Regions from separate parts of the Homo sapiens genome. Here region 1 is linked to region 2. A link means that fine-mapping ties the variant in region 2 to the expression of a gene that starts in the linked region. Tissue or cell type: whole blood. Region 2 holds a variant in brackets; the other region holds the start of a gene. All regions are shown on one strand. Distances are between the middles of the regions.

Region 1 (5,232 bases), 28 kb after region 2:
CCCTAAGAGTGCAGTAAACCCACTGCCAAGCTAAATGCTAAAAATTTTTAGTCCTTGATTACCATAATTCTTTGGTTCATTAACTGGGCAGTTCTCAGAGGCAAGCTGTACATTTCCATATAGCGCTCATAAAGAAGTCTTCTTTGGATTGTCTCTTACCTATTAGGCACTGCTGATAATAAGGACACTGCAAAGAAATGATAAACCATGGAGAAAAGAGGATTTGGCAGAACTATCATATGCATTCTGCCACGAGATACAGCCCCAACACTGAAGAGACCAGGAATAGTAACTCAGCAATTAGCCAAACACGCATAAAATTTAAAAAACCATTCTATGTAGGTTAAGTACTTTTAATAATTCCAGAGCTCTCATGCTTCACTGGCTCCTCCTACCTGACCCAAACATTATGTCCTTTTTTTACACGGTGGCACTGAAATTCTTTTGATTTACTGCATCCCCTGGCATTTCAGTAATTTAGGTTAAAATGACTTGTAAGCCCCTACTAAACTACCCTTGTCATTTAAAAATATTTGGCTTCAACCACTACATTTTAAACTGCGAGAGAAAAGAAAAGGTTATTTCTTACCTGATTGCCTTCTTTGAAGCTAAGTCCAAAGTCAATGAGTTTAAAACATTCATTCTCTGCACTCCACAATATGTTACGTGGTTTGAGGTCCGCATGGACATAGCCCTCATGATGAAGAAAAGCAAGGGCCTCCAAAACATCTCGGGCACAATGCTGTATCATCCACATGGAACAACCCTGGTGACTGGAATATAAGAGCAATTCCGAAACACTGACATCCAGGAGTTCAAGCAACAGACAGCGTGATGGCACATTTGGAGAAAAGTGGATTGTAAACACTCCATACAAAGTCACTAGAAAAAGAAATTATAATACTTTAAAAATCAGACTCAGAGTAAGTCACTACTAAAGTAGGTAACTGCAGTACAAATTTGAGATAGTCTAGATAAGGATAACTTTGATGAGCAAGCTTCCACTGTAATTTATTTTTCCCATGAATAAGATCTTTTGGCAATTGGGTTATTTTAATAAAAATAAGATGAGACAGCCTACAACAGCTGATTACCATTCACAGATACTAAATATGGTACAATTATTCAATTTGTGTTTCACCAAGTACTCATTGGTGATGAACACGAACTTGGAGTGCCAAGCAAAAATGATTAAAAGTAAAAAACCTAAATATAAATAAATAAAACTTACTGTTGCATCATGAGGTCCTTTAAAAAAAAAGAAATTTTTAAAAGTAAAAACCCAAATATTAAGTAACTCTTTTAAAAGGAATGTCACAATGCGCAAAAACCAAACTAAACATTGCTTCTTCATCCAAAACAGCAGTCTAGGTCTGCCACGGTGGCTCATGCCCGTGATCCCAGCATTCTGAGAGACCGAGGCAGGAGGACTGCTTGAGCCCAGGAGTTTGGAGACCAGCCTGGGTAACAAAAGGGGACCTCTTCTCTACAAAAAATTAGCCAGGCTTGGTGCTACGTGCCTGTAGTCCCAGCTACCTGGGAGGCTGAGGTAGGAGCATGGCTTTAGGAGGAATTGGAGGCTGGAGTGAACTGTGATCTCGCCATTGTACTCCAGCCTGGGTGACAGAGTAAGAACTTGTCTCAAAAAAAAAAACTAAAACAAAAATAAACAGCTCTCTATAATCTAAATACTAACAAAGAGATTAAGACTTTTCGGATGAAATTTTAATCTTGCAGAGATCAGGCAAGTCCCTAGGCTTGCAAAATTTTTCCCTTTTCAATACCAAGGTTATAGTAACAGACCATTTAGTAAACTAAAAAAATGTAGCACTAGTGTTAATTCTTCTCCAAAATGATATTATAAAAAAACTCACTCTTCAAATTAACTATGCATCATACTTGCTAGGAAATAAGACTTTTCTTTAATAACCAAAGCTATAACTAATGATAAGCTTTCTGTCGTGTAATGAAAATGAAACCTTTTCACAGATCAATCATCAGTGATCATTACATATCTTACATTCTGAGTATCTGATTCTTGAAACAGTCTCAAGAGAGCAAAGGTATAGTGTTCCTAAATTTCACACTTCTATAAAGGCTCCCATGGAATAGTGCATCATTTCTTCCAAATCCGTACTAAAGATATAATAGGTGAGCTATACGAGTTACTAGCATTGATGTCACAAGGCCCAGACGTAGTTCCCATTTTCTACTGGTATGCAAAGATTCAAAAATTTCCACACAAGACACGACAATCTAGCAAAGACATGCCTCCTCTCACTAGAAAAGATATTTCTGTATGCTAATGAATGCGGCATTCTCCGATGAGACTCGAAGCAAGACAATTTACTGAGCATCTATGTGACACCTGGCAAAGCAGACCACCAACTCCACTATACCGCAGACAGTAATAAAGTGAAAGGGGAAAGGGGCCTGGATGGGGTGATAAAGAGGGCTAAACCCGCTTCTCCCGCAGAAGGGGAGGAAGATGGAACGCCAGACAGCGAGAGGAAGAGTGTGCTCGGACTGTGACCTGGGCAAGAAGAGAAAGGAGACAGCGGCAATTACCGATGTTTCTGTGACCCTGCAACTGTTCCAGCGCCGCCCTCTCTTTGCGGAAACCATACTCGGCGGCAGAGGCCGCAGCCCCGGTGGTTCCTGGCGGCAAGAACTGCTTGAGGGCGCCGGGGGGCGAGCCAGGGTTGCCGCAGCAGCGAACCCGATACACCGAGGCGGAGGAGCCGCTACCCAGACGGCTCTGTACCTGCCACAGCCGCCCGAAGGCCTCCAGAAAACGCGGCGGCTCCGCGCCCCAGGCGCAGCCGGATCCCGCCATCGGTGTGGGTTAAGGGCACGGACACGGGAGCTGACGCGACGCCTGAGGCAGGCCGGCCGGGCCCGCGGTCACATCTCCGCCAGCCGGACCAGCGGCTCCGCAGGGAGGGACCTGCAGCCGCCTCACCGACTCCCGGGACTTCAAGCAGCCATGACACCGGAAGCCGTGGTGCACCCGAGTCCCAGAAGCCGGAAATGGAGGAAGAGCCTATCATACAGGCCGAAGGAGGGGGGGCTCAGAAGGGGCGGGGCCTAGAAGAGATTAGACGCGCTAGGTTTGGAAAAAAGAACCGAGAATAAGAAGTAACCTTAATTATTGAGTATCTACCATTCCAGGCCCAGTGTTAACCGCTTTCACATAGACCTGAAGCCAAAACTGGTCCTTTTTCTTGTTGAGGCACCTCACCTTACCTCACCACTAGGAACCCGAAAAATAAAACCCGGCCTACATTTCTCATAGAAAGGATCCCAAGGAAAACACCCCAGGAACAAAAAGAGAGTTTACCATCACCTCCAGGTCCACGGTCACCAGAACCCATGATTCTGGAAGCCTAGACCTTTGTTCTTCTTTTAGATGTAAACCGAAAATACAATTCTAAGCCCCCCGTGTCGCCAACCATCGGAATGGACTTTCTCCCAGGCCAGGGCACTCTAAAATTCTGGTTCAGTCCATGACGGGAAGTGGGGGTCCGACTAGCCTCATACCTCTCCGGTTAAGGTCAACACAGACCTTCGGTCTGGTAAGAAACATTTACAATCTATTTTCTTGGAAGCCTGGTACCTGGAGGCTTCATCTGCATGACAAAACTTTGGTCTCCACAAGTTCTTATGACAACCCAGACATTCCTTTCTATTGATAACTCTTTCAACCAATTGCCAATTAGAAAAATTTTAAATCTACCTATAACCTGGAAGGACCCATTTCTCCCCCCACCAATTCCCGCTTCGAGTTTTCCCACCTTTCTGGGCCAAATCAATGTATTTCTTAAATATATTTGATTGAAGTCTCATGTCTCCCAAAATGTATAAAACCAAGCTGCACCCCAACCACCTTGGGTACATGTTCTCAGGATCTCCTGAGGGCTGTGTCACAGACCATGGTCACTCATAGTTGGCTCAGAATAAATCTCTTCAAATATTTTACAGAGTTTAACTCTTTTTATCAACATAGTCCACCTTGCCTATGGCTCCCTCATCAAAAAGCATTCACCCTGGGCAAACACGGATCTGTTCCAAATTTTTATTTTTCATTTATTTATTCAATTATTTTATTCATTCAGCAAACGTTTATTGAGTAACAAATGTAGCAAATAGGCATCTCAATCCACAAACTCGAGTGTGTAAGAAATGTAGCCTTCTTTACTTTTCAGTCATTCAACCTTTTCTATTTCAAGATCTATTCTGATTGTGTGGCAAAAACTTAGTATCAGACAATAGGCCCTATCTTCTTTTCTTCAGGTTTTGTGTAAGTTCCCAGCCAGATGAGATGGTTCATGTAGTGCTAAGTGGAAAGTTTGAGGAGAGGTTGAGGACTAAACTCTGACCTGTCTTCTCTCTTGCTCAATTTTTTTTTTTTTTTTTTTTTTTTTTGGTAAGACGGAGTTTCGCTCTTGTTGCCCAGGCTGGGGTGCAATGGCATGATCTCGGCATCTCCGCCCACCGCAACCTCCTCCTCCTGGGGTCCAGCGATTCTCCTGCCTCAGCCTCCCAAGTAGCTGGAATTACAGGAATTTGCCACCATGCCAGCTAATTTTGTATTTTTAGTAGAGATGAAGTTTCTCCATGTTGGTCAGGCTGGTCTCGAACTCCTGCCCTTGTGATCCGCCTGCCTCACCTTCCCAAAGTGCTGGGATTACAAGCGTGAGCCACTGCACCTGGCCCCAAATTCTTATCTAAGGGATGTGAGGAGTCACAGCCTACAAACCATAAAATCTCATCAGATTGTCAGAGGTGTTCAAACCAGAGCAACTCCATCTTGAATAGGAGCTGGGTAAAATAAGGCTCAGATCTACTGGGCTGCATTTCCAGGAAGTTAGGTATTCTAAGTCACAGGATGAGATAGGAGGTCAACACAAGATACAGGTCACAAAGACCTTGCTGATAAAACAGATTGCAGTAAAGAAGCCAGCCAAAACCCACCAAAACCAAAATGGTGGTGAAGGTGACCTCTGGTCGTCCTTACTACTCATTAGATGCTAATTATAATACATTAGCATGCTAAAGGAAACTCTTACCAGCACCATTACAATTTACAAATGGTATGGCAACGTCCTGGAAGTTACCCTACATGGTCTAAAAAGAGGAGGAACCCTCAGTTCCAGGAATTGCCCACTCCTTTCCTGGAAAACTCATGAATAATCCACCCCTTGTTTAGCATATAATCAAGAAATAACTATA
Region 2 (5,232 bases):
TACACAAAAGCTGGAGTATAAATATTTATTTTTAAAAATTAGGCCAAACTGAATATAGATATTTAATCTGGTTTCACAAACTCTTAAAATAATTTTCTGAGGAAACAATGATGAGGAATGTGTAGGAAAGGCAATGTTTCTATGCTAGCGGTACCAAACCTGGAACTTTAAGTATCATTTTTTAGCTCATTAACTATATAGAAGATTACTAAGACCAGTAAGGGAGCCATTTTCTTCCCCTCCTCTATTTTTATTACTTATCTCTCTCCTCTTTACTCTTAAAATTGGCAATCTTCTGACAACCCAAGCTAATAAAATAATATAGCTATATATAATTCAAATAACTAAAGAACTTTTGAGTCCATATATGCAGGATTTTTGAATACCTCACTACATTTGCTCTTATACCCTCACTGTCCTGGTATCATAAATATTATTAAGGGAAGATAACTTAGAAGGGGAAAGCAATTCCAACCTGGGATAAAAAAGTGATTACAAATAATTATCTTGTTGATAGTAAGGGCTTATGGTAACAAGTAGCTCTGATTTTTCACATAAAGATCCCCCCCCAAAAAAACAAAATACAAACAATTCCAGTTTTTTTCCCCCAGAATGTGACTTATTTCCATTATACAAAGCAGTATAACAAAATAAGCTCTCTTCTGCACAAAAAACGATTAATGGTTTATAAGACAAATAAGTAGAATGCTTCTCTTTGCCTTTAAATTAAAATACTATGAACCTAGGTAACAAAACATACATGGCTTTCTTCAAAAGGGCCACAAGATTTCTTCTGGTTATTGTGACAGCTACCCAATTTAATGGGAAATAACACTCAAGCAGTCATTTGGTAAGTTTCCCATGAATTTCAGCATTTACAGTGCCACAAACACAACTGCCACAATTATGACAACTCTCTGAAAAGCACAAATAAAGCAAATTTAAAACATTAATCCTCATAAGCAGTACAAGGCAGAACAAAAGTGCTGAGTGGTAGGAAAATGAATAAAAATTTCCTATCAGGAGAATAAAGTTTGTGTAAACTATCTTATATCCTGAAGATCACTTTAATGACCACCTATAAAATACAAAGTTTCCTAAATACTCTCTGATTTATAGATATTTCTCTTACAGTCCACTGCTCCTATAAAATTACAGCAAAAAATATTAAAATTATTTACCTTCTTCTTAAATATCCATGGCACTTGTCAAGTACATGCTACTGTGAATCTACTGGTCATTATATAATTTAAAAATAGTGAAAAACATCTGAGGGAGGTGGCTACAATAACGAACATGACATATCCTATAGTATTAGGCAGAGAAGCTATCCTAAAACAAAATGAAACAAAATCTTTACAATTCTGGGTACTCCAAAAACTAAAATATCCATGTTCTTCTGTGATTAAGAATGGGACTTATCTTAATATACCACAAGAGGCTCAGCTCTGTATGATGGAGACAACATTTTTATATTCATCAAGAAAGCTAGTAAGTAATACTAACTTGAAAAACTACCATCTCAAAATAAAGGTGATTGACTGAGCACCTTAAGAAATGGGGATTCTTTTGAGCTAATTGTGACCAAGTACTTGTCTATATGTGACCATAATTGACAAGAAATGAAATTATATCACAGAGCTACAGTAGTAAAATTTGATGAAGGAACCTGATATTAAAAACAGAACTAGAGATCCAAGGAAGAATTAAATTCTGCCAGACAATTCTGGCTTTTCCATCATATATAATATTGGAATAAAATCAAATATGAATAGTTTTACATATACAAAAAAATAAGGTAAACCAAGGCTATTTCCAGGCAGACAGTGAATATATATATGAAAAATAAAACAAAGGTAAACCCAGAAAATTTTGGACTTTTATACTATCATATGTGACTCAATCTAAAAGTTACTCCAGGAAAAAGGCAGAAGTGCTATTAATTATCATCATCTGGGAAGCTTTCACCCAAATGAGTTTTAATATTTTCCAGCAAACACAAGGCACTTGCTTAAATCTTTATCTACACAGCCATCAGACTCAAAGTCATGATGTGATTCCAATGTACCCGAATCTGAATAAAGCCACCTAGCATGTACCCCTGCATAAGTGTCTAGGTAAATAGATGGTTACTGAGTGTCTCCCCTACTCCTTCACCCAGTAACTATGTTGTTACAATTACTATCATTTACAATGGTGCTGATTTTCATTAAATTAACTGTAAAAAAAAAAAAAAGTCATGCTGCCAAGTATACTGATAGTAGAACTTATGTGTAAGATAGGCCTAACAGTCAGAAAATAAGACCTAAAACAAAAAGATACCCAAATGTTAGTTATCTGCATGATAAATTAACTAAAACAAGCCATGAAACAGCATCTGATAAGTGCTCTAACTCCGCCTTTTATTCCAGAAAAGTAACTGATGCCCTTACCAGAGTGAAGGTCCAGTGTAATAAGACAGAAAAAAGCCTTCTGCCCATGGTTTCTCTTCAGCTTTCTCTATATGGCAGCATTCCTTATAATAAACTTGCTCAATAGTTAAAATATAAGCAACATGAATCTAGAAGACAAGTTAAATAAGTATTTGGAGATTTTCTTTTAAAAAATAATTTAACATATCTCAGCACTCTTTAGCAGCTGGAGTACCAAAAAGAAGGCAATATTTCTCTCAATAAAAACAAAGAGAAGTTCGAGTAAAACCATACTTA[T/C]GGTTTTTGTTCTAAAAGCAGCCAGTTTGGCTCAAGGCATAGCAGAAAGGGAATCCCTCTAAAGAGAGCTGCTATATTGGTGGCCACAAAAAAGGAAGACATCCAGTGGTAATAAATGCGGATCTCTTATTGCAAGAGAATAGTTTTAAAAATTCCTTTAAAAGGCAGTCAGTACTTTTAGTTAATGCTGTCTCTTACTGAGGTGTCCAACTCTACTTGTTTTTGTCCTGTAAATACAGCATTAGTTTTGACAGTGGCTAGCTAGCTACCCCCTCCAAATATATTTCAAAAGAATCAAGTATTTCCCACAAAATAATCACTGTATGTGCCTTTTCTGGGTGTACAATGTGCCACAGTAATACCCCAAAGAAGTAACTGGGAAGGTGAGAGGCAAGGAAGCACAGGTATTAATTTAGGGAATGAAACACTACCTGAGACAAAATTTGCCCAAAAGGGTAGGGGTTAAGTGACATGAACCCTCACCTCTTTACCCTTTCTCTCAAAAAGAAAATTTCTAGGTCTTTCAATAACTTCAATAAACCAAAATCCCTATGTATATATTTCATCCTAATCATGAAACTTGTATCTTTTGATATTTGGTTCAGGTTTAAGAAAGATAATATCACAGGAGGGAGGGGTAATCTGCTAATGTGATCTTTGGTAGAACGGGCTAAGAGCTATAAAATAATTTCAATCACAGGAGGCATTTCTTTTTCAATTCTCTGGCTTTAATATAAAACATCTAGCCAGGTGTGGTGGCAAGCGCCTGTAAACCCAGCTACTGGGGAGGCTGAGACAGGAGAATCGCTCAAACCTGCGAGGCAGAGGTTGCAGTGAGCCGAGATTGAGCCACTGCACTCCAGCCTGGGCAACAGAGCAAGACATCATCTCAAAACAACAACAACAACAACAAAAAATCTAATTAAATGCATGGTTAATTCAAGGCTCATCAATTATTCCCTCAGCTCCCTTAAAATCTAGTAACCATCTTCTGTAACAAAATTCTACAGTGTCAAGCACTAAATATATGTATGAATGTATCAGCAATAAGATGACAATCAAAGAATGCTGTGAAGATTGGCATCAAGATGTTAGCAGCATACTGCAGGACTAGGCTTAGAAGCCTACCTGCAGTTTATTTGTAAGGATTTTTCTTTTGGGGGCGGAGGGGAGAGAAAAGTAAATGTGCTAACTTAGGATACTTGCCCTTATAAAGAATTCCTTTGTATCCCATGTTCATCGTATTTAAGGACCTGATGTTTCTAATCACCACAAAATCTGCTACCCATATGAACATTTAGGAAAGTTTAGGTCTTCACAATACGGGTTCTGCCCACTTGAATTCTGACTTGAAAACAAACCAATTTATAATCAACTCCTGAAAGGGCCAAAATAAAAAATAATAGTTCTTCCTTCTAAGGGCATGTATTGGGGAACATGCCACAAGACCCTTTGGTAATTCATAAATCAGCCTCCTTATGCCAAATTTGGTTTCATAATAAACATTAAAGGAGAGTCCTGAATTTGACAATTATAAATAACTAAAATGTCAAACAATAATTGTTTGAATGGGGTAAAGTATTTCATTCTGTAAAATGCAAATTCTAACTGGACTCTCAGCAACCTGCATGGCAAACATAAGGAAATATGAGGAGGCTTCCAGCAGGGAAAGATAGAAGACTTTTTCCTTAGGAAAAAATAAATAAATAAAAAAATTAATAACCTGTATATAACTTGTCTTTTTTTTTTGGTATAATCAGTGCTTCATAAAGGCATCCTAATTTTTATATCTTTAAAGACAACCTACCATGAAATAAGAAGAATCCATAATTATAATTCTAAAAACCATGTAATCAACTTGTGTCCATGAACTCACGCATAGCAGCATCCTCTACTCAGGGACACATTATGTTGCTATGAATCCTTTTAAGAATTCTTTGAGTTTTTCTTCCTTTCTACTTCTACCTCATTATATCTACACCTTTCTTAACTACCTTGCAGTCAAAAGCCAAACTACCTGGGATGCTGCTCCTCTAGTTTGTCTTCAGCTAAGGATAGAGGCAAAGAATGAGGGAAGGGGAGGAAAAAGGGAGCAGGGATACGAGAAACAGAAAGGAAGAAAAAAGAATCCTTTTATTTTCCACCCTCTCTTCGCCCATTTTTTTTCTTTTCCCTTCACTGTACATCTAATTCTTTTGACCCACTTCAATTTTCATCATAGTAGGTAGAGCCACATCTTGAGAAACCTTAAAACTATAGATTTACTACAAAAAAGATGAGCTAATACAAAGTCTAAAGTAAACTAAAAGAGGGGTTGATTTACATCTGGCACAACTTAGTCTTTGTTCCAATCATTTTAGAAGTCTCAATTTAACTCCAGGCTAGACTCCAGTTTGTTCTGGGCCTCTCAGGAATTATGTTTTGTCATTTACATTGTATCAGACAGACTACCTCTCAAAAAATGTATATCTTAAATCTTACGGATGTGAAACAGGTAGGGAAGAAATAAGTATAGACTGTATTA

The links. PIP is the estimated chance that this variant, and not a neighbour inherited with it, causes the effect.
Region 1: it holds the start of UHMK1, and the variant in region 2 is fine-mapped to the expression of UHMK1 in whole blood (TOPMed, PIP above 0.99).

The regions. Positions count from the first base shown.
Region 1 is chr1:162,495,605-162,500,836 of GRCh38, reverse strand. It overlaps UHMK1 (U2AF homology motif kinase 1), which reads right to left and starts at 3,019. Exons shown (of 8, transcript NM_175866.5): 1 at 2,569-3,019; 2 at 590-882. The coding sequence starts at 2,836. RefSeq lists enhancers at 2,282-2,782, 2,969-3,048, 2,783-3,283.
Region 2 is chr1:162,523,280-162,528,511 of GRCh38, reverse strand. It overlaps UHMK1 (U2AF homology motif kinase 1), which reads right to left. Exons shown (of 8, transcript NM_175866.5): 8 at 1-5,232. Among named protein-coding and RNA genes, the nearest start is that of UHMK1, 28 kb to the right of the region's middle. The variant T/C (reference allele first, on the strand shown) is at 2,709.